Linked DNA regions of Homo sapiens: region 2 is linked to region 1. A link means that fine-mapping ties the variant in region 1 to the expression of a gene that starts in the linked region. Tissue or cell type: tibial artery. Region 1 holds a variant in brackets; the other region holds the start of a gene. All regions are shown on one strand. Distances are from middle to middle.

The links. PIP is the estimated chance that this variant, and not a neighbour inherited with it, causes the effect.
Region 2: it holds the start of NEURL1, and the variant in region 1 is fine-mapped to the expression of NEURL1 in tibial artery (GTEx, PIP 0.90).

Annotation. Positions count from the first base shown.
Region 1 is chr10:103,583,895-103,586,649 of GRCh38, reverse strand. NEURL1 (neuralized E3 ubiquitin protein ligase 1) reads right to left here. Exons shown (of 6, transcript NM_004210.5): 4 at 1,425-2,114. Among named protein-coding and RNA genes, the nearest start is that of NEURL1-AS1, 68 kb to the right of the region's middle. RefSeq lists a silencer at 2,177-2,236. The variant G/T (reference allele first, on the strand shown) is at 1,206.
Region 2 is chr10:103,492,378-103,494,985 of GRCh38, reverse strand. It overlaps NEURL1 (neuralized E3 ubiquitin protein ligase 1), which reads right to left and starts at 1,281. Exons shown (of 6, transcript NM_004210.5): 1 at 514-1,281. The coding sequence starts at 598. NEURL1-AS1 (NEURL1 antisense RNA 1) reads left to right here. Exons shown (of 4, transcript NR_120675.1): 3 at 251-425. RefSeq lists silencers at 603-702, 783-912, 923-1,072 and an enhancer at 387-936.

The DNA of each region.
Region 1 (2,755 bases):
ATGCATTAACATATGTGTATTCAGTTACTCACATGTGCCTATACACAGTACGCCAATCTCATAGAGTAACTACCTCATGCTCACTCATCTACACACATTATCTTATCTATCAAGCCTCCTGGGCTGAGGTCTAGGCTAGGGGCTGTGAGGCCCAGGGGTCTCCAAACTTGGGTAAGCATACTTACTAAAGAAAAACAATTCAGATGTCCAGAACCTGTCCAAGGTCTACCGAATTAAAATCTCTGGAGGGGGGGTCCAAGAATCTGCACTTTAATAGGTCCTCCAGGTAAATCTAACGAAACCAGCTCAGTCTCACAGAGCTGGTTCAAAGACCGGCACTTGGAAAGCATGAATACCTGCTCACTCTGGGGTACAAAGGTACCAGGAGACACTTTGTGAAAAGATTTCCGGTCAAATTAGTATGGAAAAACTCTACACCAAAACCACCATCACCGTCTCCTTAATCAAAGTGCATATTAAAGGCTCTGAGAAGTCTTCCAATAAAGAATCTTCCTCCCTTCTTTTCTTAACTCAATGCACATCCCCCCAGTCCTTTCAAACCCTGTGCCCCCGAGAAAAGGCAGGCCCAGAACTCTGCAGCCCCACTTCCCCCAAGGCTGCCTGCTCAGGGATTCCCCCGAGTCCCCCAACCAGACACCACCCTGCACCACCTGACTACTGACATTCCAACCTTTTTTTCTCATTTGGACTCACAAACTTCCTTAAAGGTGAGGACCTTTATTTCCATTTTGGAGAAATGGTAACCGAGACTCAAAAAGTTAACTGCTGGGGGAAACCTTTTTTTTTTTTTTTTTTTGAGACGGAGTCTCACTCTGTCGCCCAGGCTGGAGTGCAGTGGCACGATCTTGGCTCACTGCAAGCTCCGCCTCCTGGGCTCAGCCATTCTCCTGCCTCAGCCTCCCGAGTAGCTGGGACTACAGGCGCCCACCACCATGCCCCGCTAATTGTTTGTATTTTTAGTAGAGACGGGGTTTCACCGTGTTAGCCAGGATGGTCTTGATCTCCTGACCTCATGATTCGCCCGCCTCGGCCTCCCAAAATGCTGAGATTACAGGCGTGAGCCACCGCACCTGGCCTTTTCCTCTCATTTTTGAGTGGTCAGTGGGTTGTGTGCTTCTGGACTGTTTATGTATCTGTGAGACTATGGGTTGATCTGATTCTGGGCATCAAACTCAATAATCCGC[G/T]CTTTCCCTCGCCTCACCCCCCAGGTGAGTCTCCCAGGTGACATATAAGGGCCACTGACAAGATGACCAAGTCCCGCCCAGAACTCACCTTAGGTGTCTGTGATTCCTTAGCAACACCATCATGAGCCTGGAGGAAGGGGAGCTCGCCCTTTGTCTCCTACCCGGATCGTCCCCGCCTCCAGGAAAGGCATACGCCCAGGCGCAGCTGCGGGCACTCACCGAGGATGCGGATCTGCGTGATGGTCCCGTGCAGGCCGAAGAGCATCCAAAGCGGCTGCGAGGCGTCCACGCACAGCTGCATGCCGGCGGCCGCGCCATTGTGGCTGAGGTGCAGCTCGCCGTCGGCGTTGACCACCAGGCCCAGGATGTCGCCGCTGTGCAGGGGCCCGGGCACGCGGCACACGGCCCAGAATTCCTTGCGGTCCACCAGGGCCTCAGGGCTGAAAGGCAGGTCGGCCGGCCGCAGCGTGCCGGGGTCGCACGTGGTGACGCCGAACGACAGCGCGCCGGGCCGCGCGCCACCCGAGCGCGTGACCTTGACGAAGATGGTCTCGGCCACGCGCACGGGCCGGCTGGTGAAGACGAGCGCGCGCTCGTCGCGCCCGTGCTCCACGCGCGCCACCGTCTGCTCGTCGAGGATGCGGACGTGCGCGCCGGCGCGCAGGGCGTGGAAACGCAGGTCGCCGTCGAGCTGCGCCGGCAGCGCGCGGCTGTGCTGCGAGTTGAGTGAGTTCTGCGGGATGGGGCAGCCGGCGGCCGGCGCGGCCTCGTCGCCGTCCGCGCCCGGCACGTTGAGGTCGCATAGGCTCACCGAGAGGCGCGCGTCGTCCGCCTCGCGCCGCAGCGACGGCCGCCGCAGGGCGGTGAAGGAGCGCGGCCGCAGACAGTCCGGGAGCACCAGCTCGCTATCTGCGCGGGAGACACGGGGCAGTGTCACGCAGGGCTCTCGGGAGGCGGCCCCGGCGCGCCCCGCTGTCCGGTCCCTACGCGCGCACCGTTACAATCCCGGATGGCTAATGGCGCACACGATGCTTGTGACATAAATTAGCGAACACAGTCAAGAAACGACTCTTGCAGGACATCTGTTTAAGCAGAGGAATAGGTGGGGGGAAGCACCGAAACTGAAACCATGTGGATGCTTCCAAATGCTCACAGGTGCTTGCTATATGCATATGTGTACTTCCTCATTTTCTACAGTAAACTTGTATTCCTCATAATTTAAAATTTTCAAAAATTTAACTCCTGGGCTCCTTCCGTCTTATCCCTAGCAGCTAGAACAGCGCCAAGCATTCTGTTGACAAACAGTAACCGTCTGTCGAGTGCACTGACGAAGGCCTAACATCCTGGAAAGCCAGGGAGCAACCACCCCCCAGCAAACACACAGACACCCTCTTTGCGTACATTGTCTCATCTAACCTTAACAATCACCTTTTGAGGCTACCATTGCCATGTCAGGACACAGGCTGAGAAGTAGATCTATCCAAGATACCCTTTTGAAAGTGGCTTAACAGGGAATCAAACTCATCGTTCTTTTTTAAATCATACAAGTT
Region 2 (2,608 bases), 92 kb after region 1:
ACGGCTGCAAAGGACCCCAGGAACCAGCAGCTCTGACCCTTTCTTCCAGGCTGCTGTAATCCTGTCCTGAATTTTTAAAACCCTCCCATTGGAAATGCAACTAGTGCTCCCAGCCTGGTCTCTCCAGCCCTAGGGCCGATGGAAAGGAGACCCATCGAGGTGCCTCCCTGGAGACACGGACGACCCAAGCTTCCCTCCTCACTCCCCACTCCCCTATCGACCTGGCAAACATCCTTTCCCATCTCTTCAGGCTCGCCTAAGACCATGGCCTGAGGGGACTCCAGTGACGTTCCCAGTGCCAGCAGACAGAACTGCGCAGACCCCGCGGGACGCCATCCTCCATCACCATCATCGCCGGCTGCCCTCCACCCCCAGCCCACTCCACGGCCAGAGGTGCATCTCCGGCCTCCAGACACGCACAACAGGTGGCGTCTGCCCGCCCTCCCCAACCACACCTCCCTGGCCCTCCACCTGCGCCCCAGTCCTCCAGCAGCGCTCGGCCGGGGAGCCTACCTTTGAGGTTCTGGGGGTGGCCCCGCGGCGCGCGGCTCGGGTTTCCTCGGGGCAGCGAGGGGATACTGGAGAAGTTGTTACCCATGGCATCCGGCCCCAGGAGGTTCGGCGCTCGCGGGTGGGGGCGAGGCCGGGCAGGCGCTGAGGTGCGGTGTGCGAGTGTGCGCGCGCGGGTGCGCGCCACCGGGGGAGGGCCCTGCTGGGGCTGCAGCCGGGGGCGGGCGGGCAGCTCCTCAGCTTCCTTTCTCTGGACTTCGCGGTCCTTGGCGGGTTCCGCCCGCCACGGGTGTCCTGGCGCAGGCTGGGCTACCTGCCTCCCATGCCCCGTGGCGGGAGCGGGGGCCACAAGCAGGGCCCTGGGCCGGGGCCGGGGACGCCCGGGGCTCCCCGCTTGCTCCCCGGGACGCTAGGGTTCCGGCTGGGGGTGGGCGGCGCGGCGGCTCCGGCGCGCTCCCCCGGGGCCATAGAGTCAGGGTCGCTGGCGTGGGCGTTCGGCGGCTCCGAGGCAGGCTCGGTTACCGCCCCGCGGAGACGGCCGCGGCGGCGATGTGCGTGGCTCCCTCCCGCCCGCGGGTCTGCGTGGAGCGGGGCTCGGCGGAGCGCGGGGCGTTCTGGGCGCTCCGACGCAGCTGGTGTCCCCCGACCGCCGCGGTCCCGCCCGCGCCGGGTCCCTCCTGCGACCGCCGCCCCCGCCCCCCGCCCCGGCAGTCTCCAGGATTCCCTCGCTCCGGTTGTTATGGTGACAGCTGCGCCGGTGAATGAGCGTCTTAGTGACACGCGCGCGCCCGCTAGGCCAGATGTGGCCCCGGGGCGCGCCGCGTTCCCGTAGCCGCAAGCTCTCGGCGGCGCGGGTCGGGGTAAGACATCAGGCGAGTATGGTGGCACCCGGGGCTGGCCTTATTCCCAGCACGGAAACATGGAACTTGCACTTGAAAACAAGGGGAGCAGGGCCGCGAGAACGCCGAGCTCCCCGGATGCGGGGGCGGGCGAGCCAGCACTAATGTTCGGTTTCCCTAGCTCCAGGTACCGGGCCTGGCGCAGAGTGGAGAGCCCAGGGAAACATGTAAATGAGCGAGCGGATGCTTGGATAAAGTAATTGAGATTAGAACCCCGGCACTTGACCCTCCGTTCTCAGCCAGGCTAGGGGCACTAGGGCAAGGGTTCAGAGCAGGAACCCCGGGCAGTCTCACTGATGCACAGATGCCACTGAGGGCCTTTGAATGCCCGCGGACCAGACTCACAAGCCTGGAGCTCTGGCCAAGCTGAGGGAACAGATCTCCGGGACAGATCATCAGAAGACCACCAGCTCTGAACTGAGTGGTTCTGTTAGCTATAACAAGGTGGGGGAGAGGAGCCTCTGCAGCCTATGGCAGTCAAAGAAGGCTTCCTGGAGGAAGGGGGTTTCAGCAAGGGCCCTGCTCATGTGGCTAGTGCCTTCCTGTAGCTCAACACTGCACCAAGAAGCCTTCAGGAAGGGAAACAGAAGTCATTCTTCTCCTTCCTGGACCCGGGGCATCTCTCCTGGTCTATCAGGGATGGAAGATGTTCCAAGGTTCCCCCCAGGGAATCAGACTTCCTGCTCCTCTAAGTCATCTCTAGCTCCCTGCTCTGGCTTCAGCAACTCAGATCCAGAGTCCAGTGAAGACATGGGTGGGCAGGGGGACATCTCATGTATCCTTTTCTGTAATAAAGGTTCTTCCCCCAAGTCTCCATTTGGCAGCTCCTCATTATCTAGGCACAATTCGTGTCCTGACATTCCCTGACTGCCCCAACTAAAGGACCCCCTCCACTGTCAGTCACTTTCCACAATATTCCATTTTATTTTCATCATAGCTTTTATATGGAACTTGTTTACAAGTAGCCTTTCCTCGTTTATCTTCTGCCTCCCTGCTAGAACATAAGCTCTGTGAGGGGAGAGCACAGGTCAGTCGTGTTCACCAGGGTGTCCTTACCCACTGGGGGAATGCCTGGCATGTGACAGATTCTCAGAAAATAATTGTGGAATGCATGCTTCCCACTGTGGGCCAGGAGGCTCCACTGAGATCCCTGGGGGCAGAGCCTCCTGAACCACCCTTTATTTTCCTCTCCTACTCTC